Homo sapiens: one gene and its partners. The protein of the gene in region 1 purifies or fractionates together with the protein of each later gene. This does not show direct contact. Each region holds a gene or a part of one and is shown in the gene's direction. Other genes may lie near its edges.

The links.
Region 2: the proteins of USP29 (region 1) and CGAS purify together in Homo sapiens (affinity purification with western blotting; one study listed by BioGRID). This does not show direct contact.
Region 3: the proteins of USP29 (region 1) and RFWD3 purify together in Homo sapiens (affinity purification with mass spectrometry; one large-scale study listed by BioGRID and IntAct). This does not show direct contact.
Region 4: the proteins of USP29 (region 1) and KMT5A purify together in Homo sapiens (affinity purification with western blotting; one study listed by BioGRID). This does not show direct contact.
Region 5: the proteins of USP29 (region 1) and KIF11 purify together in Homo sapiens (affinity purification with mass spectrometry; one study listed by BioGRID and IntAct). This does not show direct contact.
Region 6: the proteins of USP29 (region 1) and EPAS1 purify together in Homo sapiens (affinity purification with western blotting, with the first as the bait; one study listed by BioGRID). This does not show direct contact.
Region 7: the proteins of USP29 (region 1) and CTSB purify together in Homo sapiens (affinity purification with mass spectrometry; one large-scale study listed by BioGRID and IntAct). This does not show direct contact.

What each region holds. Positions count from the first base shown.
Region 1 is NC_000019.10:57,118,551-57,122,784, forward strand, and holds the start of USP29 (ubiquitin carboxyl-terminal hydrolase 29), read left to right. Parts: upstream 1-1,434; 5' UTR 1,435-1,679; intron 1,680-3,774; 5' UTR 3,775-3,924; intron 3,925-4,234.
Region 2 is NC_000006.12:73,428,298-73,431,797, reverse strand, and holds part of CGAS (cyclic GMP-AMP synthase), read left to right. Parts: intron 1-2,986; coding exon 2,987-3,089; intron 3,090-3,500. UniProt on the Homo sapiens protein: Nucleotidyltransferase that catalyzes the formation of cyclic GMP-AMP (2',3'-cGAMP) from ATP and GTP and plays a key role in innate immunity.
Region 3 is NC_000016.10:74,635,878-74,639,377, reverse strand, and holds part of RFWD3 (E3 ubiquitin-protein ligase RFWD3), read left to right. Parts: intron 1-1,407; coding exon 1,408-1,522; intron 1,523-2,800; coding exon 2,801-3,032; intron 3,033-3,500. UniProt on the Homo sapiens protein: E3 ubiquitin-protein ligase required for the repair of DNA interstrand cross-links (ICL) in response to DNA damage. Plays a key role in RPA-mediated DNA damage signaling and repair.
Region 4 is NC_000012.12:123,394,132-123,397,631, forward strand, and holds part of KMT5A (N-lysine methyltransferase KMT5A), read left to right. Parts: intron 1-915; coding exon 916-1,135; intron 1,136-2,213; coding exon 2,214-2,301; intron 2,302-3,500. UniProt on the Homo sapiens protein: Protein-lysine N-methyltransferase that monomethylates both histones and non-histone proteins. Specifically monomethylates 'Lys-20' of histone H4 (H4K20me1).
Region 5 is NC_000010.11:92,631,130-92,634,629, forward strand, and holds part of KIF11 (kinesin-like protein KIF11), read left to right. Parts: intron 1-1,356; coding exon 1,357-1,564; intron 1,565-2,493; coding exon 2,494-2,666; intron 2,667-3,500. UniProt on the Homo sapiens protein: Motor protein required for establishing a bipolar spindle and thus contributing to chromosome congression during mitosis. Required in non-mitotic cells for transport of secretory proteins from the Golgi complex to the cell surface.
Region 6 is NC_000002.12:46,356,407-46,359,906, forward strand, and holds part of EPAS1 (endothelial PAS domain-containing protein 1), read left to right. Parts: intron 1-317; coding exon 318-402; intron 403-3,500.
Region 7 is NC_000008.11:11,851,088-11,854,587, reverse strand, and holds part of CTSB (cathepsin B isoform 1 preproprotein), read left to right. Parts: intron 1-1,108; 5' UTR 1,109-1,133; coding exon 1,134-1,259; intron 1,260-1,892; coding exon 1,893-1,978; intron 1,979-3,500. UniProt on the Homo sapiens protein: Thiol protease which is believed to participate in intracellular degradation and turnover of proteins. Cleaves matrix extracellular phosphoglycoprotein MEPE. Involved in the solubilization of cross-linked TG/thyroglobulin in the thyroid follicle lumen.

The sequences.
Region 1 (4,234 bases):
AAGCCGACTGGACCCAACATGGTGCTGGATTCGACCCGTTTCACCTAGGACCTCTCATTATGTGCTCATTAACATACTAAGTCACACACCCACTGTGACAGCTCTGGGGAACACCCGTATTTAGTATAAAAATGTGTGGCACCGCAGTACCAAGAAATGTTTACCTTTTTCCAAGAATCTTCATGAATATTCCACCCCTTGGTTAAATAAATATTTAAAGGTAGCTCCAAACCCCGCTGGGCGTGATGCTCTGTGGTATGCCTGCACTTTTCTTTCTTCAGTACGTACTTATTCCCGTCGCAATGAATCTCCACACTTTGTTCTGCTCATCCATGAATTCCTTCTCACGACAGTGTCAAGAGCCTGGACACCAGTCAGGGTCGAGGCCTCACCAGCATCTTGGGGCCTCACTGGGCACAGACGCGTGAGCGCCCGGCCTGCAGACCTGACTCTGGCAGCCGCTCAGGCCCTCAGAGGGAGAGATGGAAGCTGGCAGGACGCAGTTGCTACCGCGCGGACCCGGCCCCCGACCAGCCTTGGCCCCTCGCGCGCCGGGACAGGGCCACAAATGACTGCACCTGGGCTTCGCTGGCCCAGGCACCACGCGACTCTAAGCGCGCCCAAAGCGACCCTCTGCGCAAACTACCCCCGGGGACGACGTCACCCGTGAGGTCCCGCGGCGCCTCCTCCTAAAGCTCGGCTGGGAAACCGTCCGCTTCCCCAAGACTTGGGGGCTTGTGGCCGAGTTGTTTTAGTTTTCCTGTAGGATTCACGGGTGGCTGAGGCAAACACGCTTGAAGGCCTAAGACTTTTAAGTCTCTTCCGCACCCTCTCTTCTGTCTCTTCCACCTGGAGGATGACCGCTTTTTTGGGGGTTTTGTTGTTGTTTTGAGACGGAGTCTCGCTCTGTCGCCCAGGCTGGATTGTAGTGGCGCCATCTCCGCTCACTGCAACCTCCGCCTCCCGGGTTCAAGCGATTCTCCTGCCTCAGCCTCCCGAGTAGCTGGGATTACAGGCGCCCACCACCATGCCCGGCTGATTTTTGTATTTTTAGTAGAGACGGGGTTTCGCCACGTTGGTCAGGCTAATATCAAACTCCTGACCTCAGGTGATCCGCCCTCCTCGGCCTCCCAAAGTGCTGGGATGACAGGCGTGAGCCACCGCGCCCGGCCGGGATGACTGTTATTAACAATTCCCGGCGTGGTTTCTAGCACCAGCCCACCTACCACACCCCACCTCGCTTGAGGCTGAATGGGTAACAGGATGAACCCGCCCCTGGGCTGGTTTTCTCTGAACCCTAACTCCTGCCGTTACGCCCCACCAGCTCTAGGCCAGGAACTCTATGTGCCCCGGCCACGCTAGAGCCCGTACCTAGACCCGTAGGTCGGGAGGCCTGCGCCCGGCACTGCGCAGACGCAGCGTGCTGTGCCCAGAACTCTTCTGTTCCCAGGAGAATCAGGGGAGTCGGCGCCGGAAGGGGCGGGTCCGAGCTGAGATTTCCAGAGCCATGGGAGCCGGAAGTCCAAGGAACTGTACCTCCATCATGACGACTCCGGTTACGTAAAAACATTCAAACAGAAAATGCTGGCCAGGCTCATGCCTGTAATCCCAGCACTTTGGGAGGCCGAGGCGGGAGGATCGCTTGTGCCCAGGAGTTGGAGACCAGCCTGGGCAACATAGTGAGACCCTCCCCCCACCCATCTCTACAAAAAATTTTAAAATTAGCTAGCTGAGATCATGCCACTGCACTCCAGCCTGGACAACAAAGTGAGACTATGTCTCAAAAAAATTTAAAAATTACCCACGCCTGTAGTGTCAGATAGTCAGGAGGCAGAGGTTGGAGGATGACTTGAGCCTTGGGGATCGAGGGTGTAGTGAGGTATGATCGCACCACTGCACTCCAGCCTGGGCAACAGAGCAAGACCCTGTCTCAAAAACTATATAAAAGAAAAAAGGGCTGGGTCGGTGGCTCACGCCTGTCATGCCAGCACTTTGGGAGGCCGAGGCGGGTAGATCACCTGAGGTCAGGAGTTTGAGACCAGCCTGACCAACAAGGTGAAACCCTGTCTCTACTAAAAATACAAAAATTAGCTGGCCATGATGGTGGGTGCCTGTAATCCCAGCTACTGGGGAGGCTGAGGCAGGAGAATCACTTGAACCCCAGAGGTGGAGGTTGCAGTGAGCCGAGATCACACCACTGCACTCCAGCCTGGGCGACAGAGCGAGAGACTCCGTCTCAAAAAAAAAAAAAAAAAAAAAAAAACAGAAAAAAGGCCGGGCACGGTGGCTCACTCCTGTAATTCCAGAACTTTGGGAGGCCAAGGCGGGCGGATCAGGAGTTCGAGACTGCCTGGGCAACATAGCGAAACCCCGTCTCTACTAAAAATACAAAAAATTAGCCAGGCGTGGTGGCGGGCTCCTGTAATCCCAGCTACTCAGGAGGCTTAGGCAGGAGAATCACTTGAACCCAGGAAGCAGAGGCTGCAGTGAGCCGAGATCACGCCATTAAACTCCAGCCTCGGTGACAGAGTGAGACTCCATCCCCGCTCCGCTCCCTCACCTCCCGCCAAAAAAAAAAAAGAAAATGCACTGCAATAGAAAAATAAAAGTACTACACTTTGGTCAAACAGGGTAACTACTAGAACGTAAAATGATCTTTTTGAAACTATCCACATTTGTTACACGTGTTGAAAATGTAGGATATATATGTTATATATATACTTATATATGTTATATATACTTATATATGTTATATACTTATATATGTTATGTACTTATATATTATATATACTTATATATGTTATATCTACTTATGTTATATACTTATATATGTTATATATACTTATATATGTTATACATACTTATATGTTATATATACTTATGTTATATACTTATATATGTTATATATACTTATACATGTTATACATACTTATATGTTATATATACTTATATATGTTATATATACTTATATATGCTATATATACTTATATATGCTATGTATACTTATATATGTTATATATATACTTATATGTATGTTATATATACTTATATATGTTATATATGCTTATATGTATGTTATATATGCTTATATGTTATATATACTTACATATGTTATATATACTTACATATGTTATATGTACTTACATATGTTATATATATACATATATGTTATATATATATAATTATATATATATAAAACAAAAAGCACGGTTACTACAAAGAAAACAGGTAAACATTAAGTGGAGTAAAAGTATATCCTGTTATATAAGGGACTTGAACATGTCTGGGCATGGTGGCTCAAGCCTGTAATCCCAGCACTTTGGGAGGCTGAGGCGGGTGGATTACTGGAGGTCAGGAGTTCGAGACCTGGGCAACATAGCAAGACCTTGTCTCTATTAAAAAATAGATAGATAGATAGATAGATAGATACATAGAACATCAAAAGAGGGAGAGAGAAAGCAGACAGATGTGGCAAAATATACACAATTGGTAAATTTGGGTGAAGGGAATATAAGTTATTTCTACTAATCTTGCAATTCTTATGTATATTTGCAATGATTTCTAAATAAAAGTTTTTAATTACCAATTGAAATAAAGTAAAATAAGTCACTATCTAGCCTTTTCTAGACAAATATTTTAAACTCTTACACAGAGATAAGTTAATCAAGAAACGTATTTCCTGGAAAAACCCGTGATATGGGTGGAGCCACCTGGGAATAAAAGGTCGGAACATCATAATCACTGTCAGACTCAACTTCCATCATTCTCCTCCAGGCGCTATGGAGTCTAATCCAGGCACTTTGGAAGGCTGAGGCTGGAGGATCGATTGAGGCCAGGAGTTTGGGACCACCCTGGGCAACATAGCAAGATCTCATTTCTGAAAAAAGAATTATCATCCACTCACCCAGAACAGCTCTCCAAACTGTAAGTTTCATTCAAGGTTTGCTTGTTTGGGTGATGGGATGTGTGTGTGTGTGTGTGTGTGTGTGTGTGTGTGTGTGTGTGTATGTGTGTGTGAGTGTTGGAAGGAGGGTCTGTCTAAACTTAATGCCCTAAAGATATTGTCAGATATTGTGATGAGGGGAATTTCATCTTCTACCCTTTATGAGGTTGAATTGTAAATTCGAAAATCCTGATTCTGGGTTTTTATTTTGAGGGGATAGTTTTCTGTTTTCTGTGGCATTGGATATTGGCATTTTCAGAAAAGAGCATGCATCCAAAATGAAAATGATGA
Region 2 (3,500 bases), on another chromosome or scaffold:
AAATTTCCGCTTGTCTTGTAAGTGTCATACTTTTTTTGTATGTTTGGATCAGTCTGTTTGGATCAGGATTCAAATAAGGTTCATACATTGTGACTGACCAATATGTCTGTTAAATCTCTTTTAACTCATAACTTCCTCTTTCATAACTTTTTTATTCCTTGAATAAAATTTACTCAATTTACTTCAATTTACTCATTGAAGAAACAGGTTATTTTTCCTGTAGAGTTTCCCAAAGAGAGTTTGTAGAGTGCATTCTAGAAGTGTCGTTTAGCATGTTCTGCTTTCATCCATATTTCTTTTTGTTGTTGTTGTTGTTTTGTTTTTTTGAGAGGGAGTTTTGCTCTTGTTGCCCAGTCTGGAGTGCAATCGCCCGATCTTGGCTCACTGCAACCTGCGCCTCCCAGGTTTAAGTGATTCTCCTGCCTTAGCCTCCAGAGTAGCTGGGATTACAGGCTTGTGCCACCATGCCCGGCTAAATGTTTGTATTTTTAGTAGAAATGGGGTTTCACCATGTTGGTCCGGCTGGTCTCGAACTCCTGACCTCAGGTGATCCACCGCCTCAGCCTCCCAAAGTGCTGGGATTACAGGAGTGAGCCACTGTGCCTGGCCTCATCCATATTTCATTAGCAGTTAGATCTAGAAGGTAACTGTTGGGTGTTTTTTTTTGTTTGTTTTTTGTTTTTGTTTTTGTTTTTTGAGACTGAGTCTCACTCTGTCATCCAGGCTGGAGTGCAATGGCATGATCTTGGCTCACTGCAACCTCTGCCTCCTGAATTCAAGCGATTCCCCTGCCTCAGCCTCCTGAGTAGCTGGGATTACAACTGTGTGCCACAATGCCTGGCTAATTTTTGTATTTTTAGTAGCGACGGAGTTTCGCCATGTTTGCCAGGCTGCTCTTGAACCCCATATCTCAGGTGATCTGCTCACCTCGGCCTCCCACGGTGCTGGGATTACAGGCATGAGCCACTGCACCTGGCCTAATTGCTAGTTTTTATACTATTGTAAGTAACATCTTTCTCAAAATTTCATTTTTTGTTTATTACCATATATCAAAATACCTTTGATTTTTGTATCCACAATCTTGGTAACTCTTTTAATTGATTTGGTGAGTTTATTTACATAATTTTTTTTTTCTTTTTTCATTTTCTTTCTTTTTTGAGATGGAGCCTCGCTCTGTTGTCCAGGCTGGAGTGCAGTGGCGTGATCTCGACTCACTGCAACCTCGGCATTCCGGGTTCAAGGGATTCTCCTGCCTCAGCCTCCCAAGTAGCTGGGACTATATACAAATACATACATACATGTGGTATGTGTAGGCACACGCCACCACACTGGCTAAGCTAATCTTTCTATTTTTAGTAGATATGGTGTTTCACCATGTTGGCCAGGCTGGTCTCCTGTCTCGGCCTCCTGAAGTGCTGGGATTACAGGCGTGAACCACCATGCCCAGCATTGTAGATTCTTTTGTATTTCCTATATATGCAATTACATCACCTATGAATAATGATGGCTTTGTTTCTCCCTTTCCAGTGTGTAACCCTGTTTTTCCTTCCCTTACTGTGCTTGCTATGACACCCAGTGCATGTTGAACAGAAATAGAGATAGCAGATGTTTTGCCTTCTTTCTGATTTCTCTCTCCAACTTTTTACCTCACATAATGATTGTTGCTATAGTTTTCTAAAATCTACCTTTTATGGAATCAAGTGTCCATCTAGACTTAGATTGCTAAGAGGTGTTTTTTTAATGATGAACGACTATAGGATTTTAAGAGCTTCATTTTCTTCATCTATTGAGACAATCATGTATTTCTCCTCTATTCTGTTAATGTGACAGATTATATTGATTGATTTTTCTGAAAAATCATTCAGATTATAAACTACTTATACTTTGCTAGTATAAAACCACGAAGTAACAGGGTGGTCAGAGCATAAAAGAGCTAGCCATGGTAAGACTCGGGGAGAAATTTTTTTTTTTTGAGACAGAGTCTTGTGCTGTTGCCCAGGCTGGAGTGCAGTGGCGCGATCTCCGCTCACTGCAAGCTCCACCTCCCGGGTTCGCGCCATTCTCCTGCCTCAGCCTCCCAAGTAGCTGGGATTACAGGCGCCCGCCACCACGCCCGGCTAATTTTTTGTATTTTTGGTAGAGGCAGGGTTTCACTGTGTTAGCCAGGATGGTCTTGATCTCCCGACCTTGTGATCCGCCCACCTTGGCCTCCCAAGGTGCTGGGATTACAGGCGTGAGCCACCGCGCCCAGGTGAAATCATTCTATATTTACACAAACTCTCATAAATAAGAATAAAGGAAATGGTCCCCAATTCATTTTGTATTAATATAAAACCTGTAAGGATGGTACAGAAAAAGTGAATAAATTGATTCAAATTATTATTGAAACAAAATATTTAACAAAGGGAATTTAGCAATATATAAAAGGTAATACATCTTACTATTGCTAACTATATTAAACTGTGACTTCCTTTTTTTTTCGGTTAGGCCCATTTTTTGTCTCAGTGTACTTATTTTTATACATAATTATTTATCTGTTCACTTCTTTTGATTCACTCCTAAGATTTTTTCAGAATATTTTCTTTTTCTTTCTTTCTTTTTTTTTTTTTGATGGAGTTTTGCTCTTGTTGCCCAGGCTGGAGTGCAATGGTGCAATCTCGGCTCACTGCAACCTCCACCTCCCAGGTTCAAGTGATTCTCCTTCCTCAGCCTCCCGAGTAGCTGGGATTACAGGCATGTGCCACCATGCCAGGATAACTTTTTTTTGTATTTTTGGTAGAGATGGGTTTCTCCATGTTGGTCAGGCTGGTCTCGAACTCCCGACCTCAGGTGACCCACCCTCCTCGGCCTCCCAAAGTACTGAGATTACAGGCGTGAGCCCCCATGCCCAGCCCCAGGATATTTTCATGAGGGAAACCACTTGAATATTGTTTAGATATGGATGCTTTGGGTAAAGTGCTTTTTTGTTTTTCTTTTTGAAATTAAGAAGAAACATGGCGGCTATCCTTCTCTCACATCGAAAAGGAAATTTTGAACAATCATGGAAAATCTAAAACGTGCTGTGAAAACAAAGAAGAGAAATGTTGCAGGTAACAGCCTTATTTTGTTAAATGACAGATTATCTATGGTATGCTTAATTATTTGTTGACTCCACACCTCAGACCTGAAGAGCTGAGCTGGGTTGGGTCTGGGGGGCAGGGCAGGATTGGGTTGAGCTGGGGAGAGTGTGAGTATGAAACCAGAGAAGCTAGATCCAAAGGGCCAAGGAAAGGGTGTTGTTAGAAGGCAAGGCCGGGGAATAGTAGTTCTGAACCCTGGATCAGATGAATGTGTTTTTGTATAGATGTATCAGTAGGACAGAGTGAGAGGGTATGAGCACTAGCCATGACAATTCGATGGGTCTTAGTATTCTGCTTGTTTAAAAGTAATGGATATTAATGCCATATAATTGGAGGAGGCCAAAAGGTCGCTCTTATTAGATACTGGGCTTGCTTTGGGAT
Region 3 (3,500 bases), on another chromosome or scaffold:
GTTGCGTAAGTGATGTTGTAATCATTGAAATGGCTTAGCGCACTGGGTGTAGTAGCTCACACCTGTAATCCCAGCACTTTGGGAGGCTGAGGCAGGTGGATCACTTGAGGCCAGGAGTTTGAGACCAGCCTGGGCAACATGGTGAAACCCTGTCTCTACTAAAAATACAAAAATTAGCTGGGTGTGTTGGCAGGTGCCGGTCATCTCAGCTACTTGGGAGGCTGAGGCAAGAAATCTCTTGAACCCGGGGGGCGGAGGTAGCCGTGAGCCTGGATCACGCCACTGCTCTGCAGCCTAGGCAATGGAGTGAGACTCGGGCTAAAAAAAAAAAAAAAAAAAAAGTCTTAGCTCAATGCATTACCTTTTCTATGTTTAGATACATAAATACCATTATAGTACCATTGCCTATAGTATTCATTATGGTAACATACTATACAAGTTTGTAGCCTGGGAGCAACAGTATATAGCTTAGGTGTGTAGTAGGCTATACTGTGTAGGTTTCTGTAAGTACATTCTGTAATGTTTACATGACGAAATCACCTAACAACATGTTTCTCAGAACATGCCCACATCATTAAGCTGCACATGACTGTATTTCTAGATTGCTGTTAAAATTGTTGTGAATGAATTTTTTAAATTACATTTACTAATCAGTTATCTGATGAGGACTGCTGTTGATCTAATTTTTTTGGTCTTGAGTCCAGCAGCGTTGCTAAACTGTAATTGTTTTGGGGGTTCTCTTAAATTTGCCATAAAAATTAATAAGGGCAGCTTTATCTTTTCCAATTTTCATCTTTTTCTTGCATATCTTACTGGAGTGGAATTCTGTCTTTGCATTTCATATTTTGAGACTGTTTTTAGGTACATACAAATATATATTTGTTATTCTTGGTGAATGTGTCCTTTTATGATACATTGTTCCTCGTTATGCCTATTTATGCTTTTTCCTTAATTCTAATTGGTCTTTCCTTTGTTAATATTTGCTTGATGTCTACTTTTGCTCTTTTTAACTTCAGATTCTTTTTTGGGTTATATTATTTGAGTATCTCATGAACAACCAACAGCTTACTGTTTCCTTTTTAATCCAGTAACCTTGGCCTTTTAACATGTCAGTTTAATCTTTTACAATTTGCCGTAGCTGAACACTAGATTAGCTCTGTTCTCTCGTTTTGCCTGTGGCATTTTTAGTCCCCATTTTCTAGTAATAGTCAAATTCCTGACCATCACTCCCTGCTTACCCTAAAACCTGTTTCTGGAGAGATTTTTCTCTTTTTATATTTTATTCACTATCATAACATATTTACAGCAAAGAACGTGCATCATAGCATGAACTTAACTCTGCCACCTGGATGGGAAGTCTTCTGTAGCCTTCCTAATCCCCACTTGTTGCTGGCTTTCCCCCTCTAGTTCCCTACTGAAGGAACAGATGCTAAGGAAACAGGCCGAGTTAGAATCAGCACAGTGCCGACTCCAACTGCAGGTCCTCACTGATAAGTGCACTAGGCTTCAAAGGCGTGTTCAGGTACGTTTGTCCTTTCTAATCCAAAGAACTTTTGGAATAGGAATGGAAGAGGAAGCTAATGTTAGTTATGTTCATCTCAGAAACAAATAGGATTTGCCAAGTTGTTTAGGAAATGAACATGACCAACTCCTTATTTTATTTCTGATTAGGGCATCTGTTCAAAACTTACTACACACTTTATGATGAGGTCTACTATAGTCTGAATTTTATTTTTTATTTTTTTGAGGCAGAGTCTCACTCTGTCACCTAGGCTGGAGTGCAGTGATGTGATCTCGGCTCACTGCAACCTCTGTCTCCTGGGTTCAAGCGGTTCTCCTGCCTCAGCCTCAGCATCTCGAGGTGCTGGGATTACAGGAGCCCACCACCATGCCCAGCTAATTTTTGTACTTTTAGTAGAGACAGGGTTTCACCATGATGGCCAGGCTAGTCTTGAACACCTGACTTCAGGTGATCCGCCTGCCTTGGCTTCCCAAAGTGCTGGGATTACAGGCGTGAGCACTGCACCTGGCCTTACAATCTGAATTTTAGAAAAAATTAAATAGCCAACCAAGAATTCCAAACTTGTTTAAGTAATTTTACCTTCCTAAATCTACTAGTAAAATGAGGGCTTTACCAGGAGTTTGAAGGTTACAATGAGCTGTGATCGCACTACTGCACTCCAGCCTGGATGCCATGGATGACAGAGTGAGACCCTGTCTCCTTTTAAGTTGTTTTTTTTTTTTTTTTTTTTTTTAAAGGACTTTAAACGAAACCACCATTAAGGACTTTCAACCCTCATATTATGATTCTGTGCTCTCCTTATTTCACTTGCTTGTTGAAATACTGTAAAAACTCAGCAGTTCTGGCCGGGCGCGGTGGCTCACGCCTGTAATCCCAGCACTTTGGGCGGCCGAGGCGGGTGGATCACCTGAGGTCAGGAGTTCAAGACCAGCCCGGCCAACGTGGTAAAACCCCATCTCTACTAAAAATATTTAAAAATTAGCCGGGCATGGTAGTGGGTGCATGTAATCCCAGCTACTCAGGAGGCTGAGGCAGAAGTGCTTGAACCCAGGAGATGGAGGTTGCAGTGAGCCAACATGGTCCCACTGCACTCCAGCCTGGGTGACAGAGTGAGACTCCGTCTTAAAAAAAAAAACAAAAACTCTGCAGTTCTCTAGGATTCATGTTAACACTTTCATATAATGGATAAAAAATCTTCCTGTAAAAGATCAAGGAATTGTATTTGAGGGGAATATCAAATTAAAAAGCTTTGTATTTATAAAATCTTTTTCATTTTAGGACTTGCAAAAACTTACGTCACATCAAAGTCAGAATTTACAGCAACCCAGGGGCTCCCAAGCATGGGTCCTGAGCTGCTCACCCTCCAGCCAGGGCCAGCACAAGCACAAGTACCACTTCCAAAAGACCTTCACAGTATCTCAGGCAGGAAACTGCCGGATCATGGCATACTGTGATGCTCTGAGCTGCCTGGTGATATCACAGCCTTCTCCTCAGGCCTCTTTTCTTCCAGGTAAAGAGTCTAGAACCTCAGCTTTCATGTTCTTTATTAGACTCCATATATTTATTTCCTTGCCTTTTGGAAAATTCAAGACTCAAAGGTTACCAAATCACCTTTCCCTATTAGTTCCTTGTTAATGCAAGTACCCCAGGGTGCTGCAAAGATGTCTTTACTGTCTGTTGACTTCATTCTGTAAATTTATTAACCAAGAGGGTAGAAATACTGATAACCATGATAAAGCAGATGGTGAGGTCCTTGGAAGTGTAGGTTACTGATATAGTCCAAGAAGGACTTATATGTCCTCAACTTACAGATGCATTTTAGACTGGAAATGTTTGACAAAACACAGCCCTAAGGGTTAATTCAAGGTGAAACAAAATTTAATATTTACTTACAATAGTGTTCAAGTTAACAATTTCCAAATAAGAGAATTTAGGGAGTAAATTGATTATTTTATTAATACTAGGTTAATTTTCTCTC
Region 4 (3,500 bases), on another chromosome or scaffold:
CTCACTCTTTCGCCCAGGTTGGAGTGCAATGGCATGATCTTAGCTCACTGCAACCTCCGCCTCCCAGGTTCAAGCAGTTCTCCTGCCTCAGCCTCCTGAGTAGCTGGGATTACAAGTGTCCGCCAGTACACTTGGCTAATTTTTGTATTTTTAGTAGAGATGGGGTTTACCATGTTGGCCAGGCTGGTCTTGAACTCCCGACCTCAGGTGATCCGCCAGCCTCGGCTTCCCAAAGTGCTGGGATTACAGGCAGGAGCCACTGTGTCCAGCCTATTTACTTAGTTATTTAAAAGTAAAACATTTTTTAAAAAGGTAAGCAGTTTTCCAACACTGTCACTCCACAAGTGTTTTAAGTGACAGATCATTGCAGTGTGTCTCCCGATACCCAGGCCAGTCTGCTGGGGCACCATGCTGAGAACTGCTGTGAACCTGGGGCTTCAACCCCACTAGAAGGGGACCTTCTTTTTCTTCGGAGTCTGAAATGAAGGGTGCCAGGCAGCTCTTGGGGAAGAGTTTCTGCTTTGTCACCTTACTCCTGTCCCCTAATGCTGTCCCAGCCTTCAGGAATGGAGCTTTTGATCTGAGTCTGCAACCTGATTCCTGAAAGCTATTGATCAAGCACCCTGCCAGCGTCTCCGTCTCTGGTGCCTCTCCCTCACAGGCTCTCTATCTCCCACGTCAAGATGCAAAAGCCTAAAACCTCTGCCCAGTGTCTTGGTCAAAAAATCGAGCTGGAGCTAGGCACTCCCCCTGTCATAGCCCATAGCGGACACGGGGCTTAACAGGCCAAGGGCACTCCTGCCTGACAAACCCAGGATCCTGTCTTCTCAAAGCTTGTCTTAGAATGCAGCTGGTCGTCTGGAAATTGAGAGACAGTACAGAATAAACCCGTCTTTCCCCCACCTCCGCCTGCAGAGAAAAGAAATGCTGGGAACGCAGTACGGAGCGCCATGAAGTCCGAGGAACAGAAGATCAAAGACGCCAGGAAAGGTCCCCTGGTACCTTTTCCAAACCAAAAATCTGAAGCAGCAGAACCTCCAAAAACTCCACCCTCATCTTGTGATTCCACCAATGCAGCCATCGCCAAGCAAGCCCTGAAAAAGCCCATCAAGGGCAAACAGGCCCCCCGAAAAAAGTAAGTGCCCCATTCAGTCCTCTTCCTAACGTGGAGCAGTTTGGTTCCTCTGATGCCAGGGAAGCCTGCTCAGGTGCCCATGGGGGTTCAGTGGCCACCTCTCAGCCTCTCTCATGTCAAAGACTCAGATGCCCCGAGTCATCAGCAGGGATGCCACTGTTTGTCAGTTTCTGGATCTGGCATGGGTCCAGAGTTCAAGAGCCTCTCCTTCCTCCCCTCCTTACCCACCCCAGCATAAGCAGCCTTTGTTTTTTAAATTTATTTTTTTTGTTTGTCTTTTTTGGTGATTGGTGTTTTGTGTTTTTTTTTTTTTTTTTTTGAGACAGAGTCTCTTGTTGCCCAGGCTGGAGTGCAATAGTGCGATCTCGGCTCACTGCAAACACCACCTCCTGGGTTCAAGCGATTCCCCTGCCTCAGCCTCCTGAGTAACTGGGATTACAGGTGCATGCCACCATGTCCCGCTTATTTTTGTATTTTTATTAGAGACAGGGTTTCACCATGTTGGTCAGGCTGGTCTCAAACTCCTGACCTCGTGATCTGCCTGCCTCAGCCTCCCAAAGTCCTGGGATTACAGGCGTGAACCACCATGCCCGACTGTTGTGTTTTTTGAGACAGGGTCTTATTCTGTCATCCAGGCTGGAGTGCAGTAGCTCACTGCAGCCTCAACCTCTCAGGACCAAGTGATCCTCCTACTTCAGCCTCCCGAGTAGTTGGGACCATAGGTGTGCACCACCATGCCTGGCTAATTTCTTTCCTTTTTTTAGAGACGGGGTTTTGCTGTGTTGCCTGAGTTGGTCTTGAACTCCTGGGCTCAAGTGATCCTCCCGCCTCAGCCTCCCAGAGTGTTGGCATTACAGGCATGAGGCACTGCGCCCAGCCAGCAGCCCGTCTTTGAAACTCCTCTGAGGCCCTCATGGGCAGGTGACTGAGTGACCTGCAGGCTCCAGTGGACAAAGGTGTTTAAGTGACATCATCTCCAAGGAGCTGTGTGCCTCCTCGGTGTGTGCCTTCTAAGGAGCTGTGTGCCTCCAGGTTTTCAGTCCTGATATTTATTTTCTCCTCTTCCCCTCTTACCCAGAGCTCAAGGAAAAACGCAACAGAATCGCAAACTTACGGATTTCTACCCTGTCCGAAGGAGCTCCAGGAAGAGCAAAGCCGAGCTGCAGGTAGTCACGTGCTTTAAATTCCAGTTTGTGGAGGGGCAGGGTGGCCCACCAAGCAGTGCTTGGCGTGTGCGTATGTGTGTGTCCTCAGCCTTGTTTTCGTCATCTTGGAGCAAGTCTCTTGGCCCCTCTGGACTTGGTTTTCTCCTGGATCTATCGGGGATCCTCACAAAGCTTGTCCTGCCTTTCTGCTGGGGTCACTGCAGGGCTTGGTTAAGACACTTGTGTGAAGGAACCTTGTGACTTGTAGCATGTGGCAGGGAAAGCCAGGTGTGACTCTGAAGGTGGATTTTCCAGGACTTGTTGGCAGAGCCATTGGGAGCCTGGGACTGTGGGAAAGGCTGCCTGTTCTTTCAGAGGCTTTTCTTGTCTGTTTTCTGGAAGTTTCCATGTTGTGGCCCAGGGTGTTAAACAGCAGTGGCTTGGGGCCACTTGCTGGTTGCGTAGCCTTGGGCCAGTCACTTACCCTGTCCATGCCTTGGCTCTCCAGTCTGTAAAATGGTACAATAATGTAGTACCTGCTAGAGCTGTGGTGAGCATTCAATAAATGTGGTCATGCAAGAGGAACCCTTAGAACCATGCTTGGCACTCAGTAAGTGCCAGCTAACTGTTACTATCGCCACCTCTGCTTCCTCAGTGTTGTCACTCCCGTCTGCTCTTTCCCACGCTGCTGCCATACTAGGAGCCTGCAGACCAGTGAGCAGCACCGGCTGGAAGGCCAGCTGGCCTATGCGGGCCTCCGCTGCCATGTTTGCAGAGGGTTGAGCTATGCGGCAGGCAGTCAATATTTGCTGCAGTGAGGTGTGGTTATTGCCTTTCTGTGAAGGAAACGCAGGGCATGGCAGGTCCCTCTGCTCTTCCCCCTCAGGGACACCTGGGGCTGCCCCTCTGCTCTCCCTCACCCCCACAGTGACCACCGGGTTGGGAGAGGTGCTCAGGATTGCATCCTACACAGAGAGGTGGGGACCCCGGCTTTGGCAGTTTCAGCATTTCAGCCCTCATGCGGACTCCTTCAGCGTTCTTGATGTTAAATGCGCAGATACACAGTGGTCTAGTATTCTTTCTCTTTTTCTTTTAATTGATGAAGCTTCATTTAAAAAAAATTTTTAAAAAGGTCCATTTTCTTCCCCACAGAGAGCAGCTTTGGTTTTATTGCCTGAAAAAGGCAATGTCTTTCAGCCAAGAATGAGCTGTTTAAAACA
Region 5 (3,500 bases), on another chromosome or scaffold:
AAAAAAATACAAAAATTAGCCAGGCGTGGTGGCACATGCCTATAATCCCATCTACTCAGGAGGCTGAGGCAAGAGAATCACTTGAACCCAGGAGGCAGAGGTTGCAGTGAACCGAGATCATGCCACTGCACTCCAGCCTGGGTAACAGAGCAAGACTCTGTTTCAGAAAAAAAAAAAAAAAGAATTTAGTATGTTCTGATGATGAAAGATGTTGAAAGTATTTAATTTTTTTTTTTTTTTTTTGAGACGGAGTCTCGCTCTGTCGCCCAGGCCGGACTGCGGACTGCAGTGGCGCAATCTCGGCTCACTGCAAGCTCCGCTTCCCGGGTTCACGCCATTCTCCTGCCTCAGCCTCCCGAGTAGCTGGGACTACAGGCGCCCGCCACCGCGCCCGGCTAATTTTTTGTATTTTTAGTAGAGACGGGGTTTCACCTTGTTAGCCAGGATGGTCTCGATCTCCTGACCTCATGATCCACCCACCTCGGCCTCCCAAAGTGCTGGGATTACAGGCGTGAGCCACCGCGCCCGGCCTTTAATTTTTTATTAGTTGTACTTTTTTTTTTTGAGACAGACTCTTGCTTTGTAGCCCAGGCTGGAGTGCAGTGGCATCATCTCAGTTCACTGTAACCTTTGCCTCCCGGGTTCAAGCGATTCTCCCGCCTCAGCCTCCCAAGTAGCTGGGATTACAAGCGCCTGCCACCACACCCAGCTAATTTTGTATTTTTAGTAGAGACTGGGTTTCACCATGTTGGCCAGGCTGGTCTCAAACTCCTGACCTCAGGTGATCCACCTGCCTAGGCCTCCCAGAGCGTTGGGATTACAGGTGTAAGCCACCACGTCCGGCCATTAGGTGTACTTCTGAGGAAATAGTAGAACATAGAAGGAAAAAAATTTCTGAGGAAGCATAATTATTGCAATAACTGAAAAAATCAGTTTTCCTTGCTTGTGTAGATGGCTACAGGAAGGGAAATAAACATTACTGGGCATCTGGATAAATTAGCATGAGTTAAAGCATTTCTTCTGATACAATGTCTAAAATTGACTTTTTTTTTTTGAGACAGAGTCTCTCTCTGTCACCCCGGCTGGAGTGGCAGTGGCACAATCTCTGGCTCACTGCAACCTCCACCTCCCAGGTTCAAGCAATTCTCCTGCCTCAGCCTCTTGAGTAGCTGGAACTACAAGTATGTACCACCACACCCAGCTAATTTTTGTATTTTTAGTAGAGACGGGGTTTCACCATGTTGGCCAGGCTGGAAAATTTACTAGTTCTTATCAAGATAAATCCTTGTGTAGATACTTTCATCAGATTCCTTTCACCGTATCCATTTTGTCTAACACTTATTTTTAAAAATATAGCTGCTTAACACAGTTGAAGAAACTACAAAAGATGTATCTGGTCTCCATTCCAAACTGGATCGTAAGAAGGCAGTTGACCAACACAATGCAGAAGCTCAGGATATTTTTGGCAAAAACCTGAATAGTCTGTTTAATAATATGGAAGAATTAATTAAGGATGGCAGCTCAAAGCAAAAGGCCATGCTAGAAGTACATAAGACCTTATTTGGTAAGTTCAGGCTGTTCTGTTCTAGTCTTGATGTGTTAAGTGTAATGTTGATTTCAAAACTGATAATTTTGTGAAACATAGATGACGGTGTCACCAATACTCTCTACCATGCACAAACTATTTGTTCAGGGTGAAGATTAATGCTTTTATTGTCTTTGAATTAAAACAAATCTTTTTTCCCTCCCCACCCTCCCTTCTGTTTTCTATAAAATGTTACATTTATTAAGTAACTAAGTATATAAACGTTAGAAGTAGAAGTCCTCTTTTTCCCTGACTCCGGCTCCTGACCCTGGGTCATTGACCATAGGTGTTATTGTTAAATTTCTTGGGCCTTTTTCTGGAAATTTTTTGTGCATAAACATTCTGCAACTTTTTTTGGGGGGGGCATATATATCTTGATGGTTTGCTATATTGTCAGAATATGTTTGTGTCTCATTGTTTTTAACTATTATCTCCCTTTAGAAAAAAGTATGTTTATTTAGTGTGAAATACTATCCTCATTATGGAAAATTTGGACATTCAGAAATATAAAAATTTAAAAAATCATCTAGACTCTAGTCTCACTAAGCCAAGCACTATACTTTTTGGTATTGATTTCCAGTTTTTTTTTTCTTCTGTAAACTTACCATAATTCTGTATATTATTTTTAGTTAGAGATTAATTGTAGAATATTCTAATTCTTTGTGTACTATGAATTATAGTTATGGGTCTGATACACTTACAAATATGTTAAGGGCTTACAGAGCACTATAGAAAATTGTAATGTATATTTAAATATTTCCTTGCTTTGTAGTGAGCCAGTTCTTTTAAGCTCGTTATTACAAATTCTACAACAAGGGTATACTTTTGTCAACTTCTTTGAAATGGTTTGAACGGTATTTAATATATTTATGTCAAAGTTTACATCTTTCTGTTTTTGTTTGTTATAGGTAATCTGCTGTCTTCCAGTGTCTCTGCATTAGATACCATTACTACAGTAGCACTTGGATCTCTCACATCTATTCCAGAAAATGTGTCTACTCATGTTTCTCAGATTTTTAATATGATACTAAAAGAACAATCATTAGCAGCAGAAAGTAAAACTGTACTACAGGAATTGATTGTTAGTACATCCTTTAAAATATTTTTGAAGGGTTGCATTTGATAAGTATTTGATAAAATATTTTGAAGGGTTACATTTGATAAGTCTTTATAAACAATGTTAACTGCTATTCTTTCTTCCTGAGCTTTACTAGACACAGTCATAGACACGTCACTGTGAGAGACTACATATATATATATTTTGTTTTGTTTTGTTTTGTTTGTTTGTTTTGAGATGGAGTCTCGCTCTGTCGTCCAGGAGTGCAGTGGCGTGATCTCGGCTCACTGCAAGCTCTACCTCCCGGGTTCATGCCATTCTCCTGCCTTAGCCTCCCGAGTAGCTGGGACTACAGGCGCCCACCACCACACCCGGCTAATTTTTTGTATTTTTAGTAGAGATGGGGTTTCACCGTGTTAGCCAGGATGGTCTTGATCTCCTGACCTTGTGATCCACCCGCCTCGGCCTCCCAAAGTGCTGGGATTACAGGCATGAGCCACCGTGCCCAGCCAGCCTCTCCTTTTCTTTATTTGTATTTATTTATTTTTTTCAGCCTCTCCTTTTCTCGGCTCACTGCAACCTCTGCCTCCTGGGTTCAAGCAGTTCTCTTGCCTCAGCCTCCCGGGTAGATGGAATTATAGGCATGTGCCACCACGCCTGGCTAATTTTCGTATTTTTTTTTAGTAGAGATGGTGTTTTACCATGTTGGTCAGGCTGGTCTCAAGCTCCTAACCTCAAGCAATCCACCCACCTCGGCCTCCCAAAGCGCTGGGATTACAGGCGTGAGCCACCGTGCCCGGCCGAGAGTACGTTTATATTTTTAAAGACAGATCTCTCCACTGTTTATTCTCTCCCAGA
Region 6 (3,500 bases), on another chromosome or scaffold:
TGCCCACGGTGACCCTCGCTGACCTCAGGCCACACGCCTCAGGCCACGCTCCCACCCCCAAGCATTGGGTTTGGCTTTGCTCATGTCCATCCTGGTAGACAGCTCTCTACTGACTCATTAACAGACCAAGTCTCTGTCATCATCAGTAGTCCCCGATTACATCTTTCTGTCTGTGGACCTGACACTGGACTGGGATTATGAGAAAACCCAATTCAGTCTCCTCCCTGCCTCCAAATCTGGAAGGTGGCTCAGCTTACTCTTGGAGTCTTTTACTTCACTGTTAGGAATAATGATGCCTAACCTTGTTTTTGAAACAGGTGGAGCTAACAGGACATAGTATCTTTGACTTCACTCATCCCTGCGACCATGAGGAGATTCGTGAGAACCTGAGTCTCAAAAATGGTATCCTTAATTGTGTTTACTTCCTTCTTGCCCCCACTGGGTGGGAATCTGCCTCCCCTTTGTCTACGGGTATAAGGGAGATAGCTCATGGCCCTTGTGATGCAGGAAAAATGGATGTCCTTAAAAAATTTAAGTATGTAGCCTGTGAGATGAGATTGGGGCATTGAGAGGATCCAGTACTCAGAAATATCTCCTGCTGGCCCTGCATGGTGCCTGGTGTCCCACTACTAGGGGACACCTTTGGGTTAGGACACTGTCTCTAGGAGGTTTCATCACCCAAGAGTCAAGCATCTCTGCCAAATGACACCACCCAAACCAATGAGGAACTAGTCTGTGCCAAAGTGCTCATAGTAACTACTGTAGTTATCTATTGCTGTCTAACAAACCACCTATAACATAGGGCTTTGATGATTATCTCCCAGGGTTCTGTGGGTTCAGTGGGTGGGTCTTGTACTCCATGTGATGTCAGCTGGGCTGCAGTCATCTGGGGGCCAGACTAGGCTGGGGTGATCAGGATAGCTCACACACGTCTGGGACCTTGTGGCAGGTGGCTGGAACCCTGGACTCAGTTGGCATGCTGGGACAACAGGACTGTTCTCTCACTCTATGGAGACTCAGAGACTCTCCCTCTCCATATGGTGTCTCTAGGGTAGCCAGACATCTTACGTGGCAGTTTAGGGCTCCCAGAAGCACTAAAGTGGAAGCTGCCAGGCCTTCTGAAGGCTTTGTCCCCAGATTGGCAGAGCATCACTTCTGCCCCATCTTGTTGGTTAGAGCATGTTACAGGCCAGCCCTGGCTCATTGTGGGAGGAAACTACACGAAGCCATGAGTGTCAAAAGGCATGGCTTGTTGGAGCTACTTTTGGAGAAGAGCTACCACAGGAAATGGTACCCTGATGAGACGCAGGTCAAGTAGGTTTTGATGGAGAAGAGGTTTAAAAAGATGTAGCATTCAGGACCTTACCCATGGGGATACCCAGCAGGTGCCAGTAGATGAGAGGACCCACACAGGCAGAAAGCACGTTGCAATGGTTGCAATGGCAGTGGAGCTTCCTGTCTTGTAACTGTGGCCATTCAACAAAGGCATGAATAGGGACATTGTTAAGAGGACTGAAGCTTTGGTCAGAATTGGGGCTTAATGACTGTCAAGGTCCCTTCCAAACCTGAGATTCTGTCACTGGTCTGGGGAGATTCTGTGCATGTCTAGATGTCCTCTTTAACAACCTCACCTGTCACTGCCATGGGGCTTGTGCTTGTCCAGCCTGAATAACAGAGGCAGTGAGGCTAAGCCTACAAGGTTTGGCTCTTATTACCACACACGCTGCAAAAACAGACACTTCATTGGCTCACCTCCACCCTATTACAGACTGAGTCTGCAGTCCACATTTGGGCCTGCAAAGTACAGAATCACAACCACCTCCTCTTCTACCACTGCCACAGCTCCCTCACCCAGCTCCTCTGCTCTCTCTTCTGCAGGCCTTAGACCACCTGGGTCCTAGGGTACACTGGCAGAGAGCACCCTGTAGGCTGCTCAGTGTCTTGTCTGGTTCTGTGGGGAAAGGGCTACCAGACTTTCTAAAGCTCTCTAAAAAGAGGATTCATGTTCTGCATGGGTAGGTGCTTGAAGCCTGAGAAAGCCTGAGAAAACCAAAGACTGATTTCTTCTGTACTCCAGAAACCCTTTGGCCTTTGGGTTCTTAGTGTCAGTTCAGCCACTGACCATAGTCTGAGTTTGAGTCTGTGACCAGAAGCAAGTACCCTACTTCTCTGTTCCTCAGAGTCTTTCTTTTCAAATTGATGGTATTGGACTAGGCAAAGGCGACAACCTTTCAGTTCTCAAGTGCCATGATTCACAGCCAAGTGACCTCTAATTATCTGAGTAGAACTTTAGATCTCTTGATCTGCATATTGAGGACTTGGGATCAGTCAAACTCAATGCAACAGCAAATCTTCACTGAAGGTGCCAGCCTATGGGTGGACTCGTGATCTAGACCTAAAGGGTTAGTGTGAGTTCCTAGAGGAAAAGAAAGCCATGAGGCAGATTGTGGAAGGCTTTGAAGGCCAGGTGGAGGGCCTTGAACTTTATTCCATAGACAATGGGGAGCTATTGAAGGTTTCTGTGCAGGGGTGGAGTGATCTGTGTGGAGCAGTGTTTAGAAAGAATGAACAAGGCCAGGCACGGTGGCTCACGCCTGTAATCCCAGGACTTTCGGAGGCCAAGGTGGGTGGATCACGAGATCAAGAGATCGAGACCATCCTGGCCAACATGGTGAAACCCCATCTCTACCAAAAATACAAAAATTAGCTGGGCGTGGTGGCGCGTGCCTGTAGTCCCAGCTACTTGGGAGGCTGAGGCAGGAGAATCACTTGAACCCAGGAGGCAGAGGTTGCAGTGAGCCAAGATCACGCCACTGCACTCCAGCCTGGCGACAGAGCAAGATTCTGTCTCAAAAAAAAAAAAAAAAAAAAAAAAGATCAAATGTCAGCATGGGGAGAATCCAGAGGTTAGCAAGTTAAGAGGCCTCAATAATACCCCAGCAACAGCCACAAATGAATCCCTCCAGCCCCCTTATACCCAACAACTGGTCTGGTCCTGGTGGTGGGGCCAGATCCCAAGATACAGGTATATCTCATTGTATGCTAACCCCACCTCTGAAAATTAAAATGGCAAGAATCATAATTTGGTATGGGAGAAATGGTTTTATAATCGTGATGAAGGAATGTTCTCTCTTTTTTAAAAAAATTCACTATTCAGTCTGTTACTGAGTGGGGTCCCCTAAGGATGTTGAAGTTTTGTTCAAGGGTGCCACAGTTCCTTTGACACATAACTCTTCAGGAATATGTCAGTCAAGATCCTCTGGAAGTTTAAGTGCAGGGGCTGGTGACTGTTCCTGGAGGAAGGAGTGTGACTATTCGAAACAAGGCTCTAGATTGTTCTATGATGCTGGGTAGGGGGCAGGATTATATCTTTGAAAGTAGGTACCAGAGATGGTGGTGTAGGCAGGATTTAGACACAGACAAGTGGGATTCAGCTGGCACTCTTCATTACTTTGTTTTACAAAAAGTGGAAAATGGTTCTGAATCGGGAGGCTGTTTGG
Region 7 (3,500 bases), on another chromosome or scaffold:
GAGGTGGAGGCTGCAGTGAGCCAAGATTGTGCCACTGTACCCCAGACTGGGTGACATGGCCCACAGACCAAGACCCTGTCTCAAAAAAAAAAAAAAAGCTTTTTTCCAGAGCCATCTTGCTGTCCTCATATATTTATTCTCCTAGATGAATTGTTGCTTAAGCAACAATGAAGTTTAAATTGTTCTTCAGATAGAACCCCTAGGTGCCAGGCAGTTTGTTAAGCACTGACACCGCAGTCCTGTGACTTTCATGACGACCTGTGACCTGTGGGAGGTAGAACACCTCACCCACCCGTGGGAGCCCCTGGAGTGACTGACAGGAACCCCTGCCTCACCCAGCTCCCCGCGCCGCGGCTCTCCCCAGCCCTGGATGCAGGCGCCCAGGAGACATGTATTGCTTTTGTTGAGCTGCTCACTTAGGAGGGTGACTCAGAGTTCAAGCTGGAAAGCACTGGCTTGTGACTCATGAGCCAGTGCAAGATCAAACGGCTGGGGCATCGAGGTGAGAGTTTTCCTTCTCAGAAGCCTCATCTCCGCAGCCGGAAGCAGAGCCCTTGGCTGACTGGAAAAACCAGAGAGGCCCCGGGAGTGGGTGGATGGCCAGCCCAGCCCCACCTCTCAGCCTCAACCTCCACCAGCCCACACCGAGCTTGTTTGTCTGTGTCCTGTCGAAACTAGGACTCCTGGATTGTAACTTTTCTTACATTTCCCTGTCCCCTGGGTCCTCCACTTAGGGTGTAATCACACAGACAGGCTCTTAACTGTTTCATATCACTCACTTGGGAAAGTGTCTCAAGCTGTTCTACAAATCCATGCAAAGGCCGTTTAAAAATAGCAGCGAAGGCCCTGGACTCGGTCTCGTCCAGCACAGCCCCTTGGCTCTCTCTCTGGGCTCTGGCCGCCTGGCCCCCGGGGACCCACACGAGGTCATGGCGTGCTTCGGGCAGGGGGGCGGGGATCCCATAGACACCTCAGCTCCTTAAGAGTTCTCCGCCTGGGCCAGGACGAGCATGGGGGTCCCCACTGATGCCCGAGACGGTGCCCCTGTGTGTGTGAGCCCTCGACCCACATAACAGAGAGGTGTCCTGATGCCCTCTGTCCTCTCCAGGTGGATCTAGGATCCGGCTTCCAACATGTGGCAGCTCTGGGCCTCCCTCTGCTGCCTGCTGGTGTTGGCCAATGCCCGGAGCAGGCCCTCTTTCCATCCCCTGTCGGATGAGCTGGTCAACTATGTCAACAAACGGAATACCACGTGGCAGGTAGGCTGTGGGGCTGCGTCCTATGTATGTCCCCTCCCAGGTCGGTCTGTGCACACTGACTCCAGGAATGGGAAGCCAGCCCTCACTGTGGCCCACAGAACATTGTCCTGGACTGTTGAAAAATGGCCCTGACCCTGAGTCATGTCGGCTCTGGACCACGCCTCCCTCCTTTGTCCCATACCCCACGTGTGTGCATGAGTGTGTGTGCATGTGTATGAATATATGGTTGTGTGCACGTGGAGGTGTGTGGGGGAGTAAGTGAGCTTCGGAAGTGTTCAAAACCAGCTAGCCCCTGTGACGCCCGCCGTGGCACAGTGGCAGTTTATCAGTCCCGCCCCTGATTCCCTTTGTCTCTGCCCAGCCCTGACCCTCGGACTGAGAACCAAGAATGAGGAGTGAGCCATGTTGAGGGCTGGAGAGGGTCTCTGATTGTCAGCAAATGGGAGCAGATCAGGGGAGACACCCACTCTGCCCGTGTGTCACTCTGGGCTGTTCCCCAGTGCCCCCCAACCCTTGGGCCCTTGAATTGGGTAGGGTCTCTGGTTTTCCCTGGGTTGGGCTTCGTGTGTGGGCAGCGTGCCCATCCACCGCCATCCCGGGAGACCCTTCAGTCAGTGGGTGACTCTCTTCCAGGCCGGGCACAACTTCTACAACGTGGACATGAGCTACTTGAAGAGGCTATGTGGTACCTTCCTGGGTGGGCCCAAGCCACCCCAGAGGTGAGTGCCTGCTCCTCTGCACCGCTGTAATGTGAGTGGCAGGCGTTGGTTTGGGGCAGTGGGAAGTGGGAGAGTGAAGGCCTCTCTGGCGTCCGCAGGGCTCATGCTGCCCAGGGCTGCCGACACCGCTTGAGGTACAGTACTTGTTTCTTTTCATTTTTATATTACTTTCTCTTTTTATTTTATTTTTTCCTTCTCAAGTTATTAGTAGAGAAGATGCTGGTGCTTTTTTTTGGTTTTTGAGAGAGTCTCACTCTGTCACCCAGGCTGGAGTGCAGTGGCACGATCTTGGCTCACTGCAAACTCTGTCTCCCGGGTTCAAGCGATTCTCATGCCACAGCCTCCTGAGTAGCTGGGGCCACAGGCTTGCACCACCGTGCACGGCTAATATTTGTATTTTTAGTAGAGACTGGGTTTCGCCATACTGGCCAGGCTCGTCTCGAACTCTTGGCCTCAGCAAGTCATCTGCCCAACTCGGCATCCCAGAGTGCTGGGATTACCGGCATGAGCCACCCCCAGTGTTTTCTATTGTGCTTCTCCAAGGTGTCTCAGCCGCAGATGTGACAGACAAGGTCTGGGTCCCCACTATGTGGGCAGACTCAATCTTGAGTAATTTAAGGGAAATCTAAGAAAAGCCAGATGAGGCCAAGTATGGTGGCTCACGCCTGTAATCCCAGCACTTTGGGATGCCAAGGCAAGCGGATCACCTGAGGTCAGGAGTTCGAGACCAGTCTGACCAACATGATGAAACCCCGTCTCTACTAAAAATAAAAAACTTTGCCAGGCGTGGTGGCGGGCGCCTGTAATCCCAGCTACTCGGGAGGCTGAGGCTAGAGAATCGCATGAACCCGGGAGGCAGAGGTTGCGGTGAGCTGAGATGATGCCACTTCCCACGTGAGGATGGGGTAGTTAAGTTGCACGACACTGCCTTCTGCACAATGGGGATGATATGAGAAATGATGAGAGGATCCTGGGCAGAGGTTGAGGCAGGAGAGCAGGGCAAGAAACACTATCTGGACTGAATAAACTTATTTAAAAATGAGTTTATAATTTGTGGATAAATTCATCTTAAAAAATCCATTACATAAGCCTAGAAAGAAGCGTACAATATCGCAAGTCAGGCCAGGTGTGGTGGATCATGCCTGTAATCCCAGCACTTTGGGAGGCCAAGGCAGGCAGATCATTTGAAGCCAGGAGTTTAAGACCAGCCTGGCCAACATGGTGAAACCCTGTCTTTACTAAAAATACAAAAATTAGCCGGGTGTGGTGGTGCATGCCTGTAATCCCAGCTACTCAGGAGGCTGAGGCACGAGAATCGATTGAACTCAGGAGGCAGAGGTTGCAGTGGGCAGAGATCTCGCCACTGCACTCCAGCCTGGATGACACAGTGAAATTCTGTCCACTCCCACCCTCCCGTCCCACCCAAAAAAAAAATCAAAAGGTGCATTGAGCAACAGAATTTCCTTTTGTTTTATGAAATTACCAAGGACACCTGTCTGCAGCCTTCTTCGGCATGTCTTGT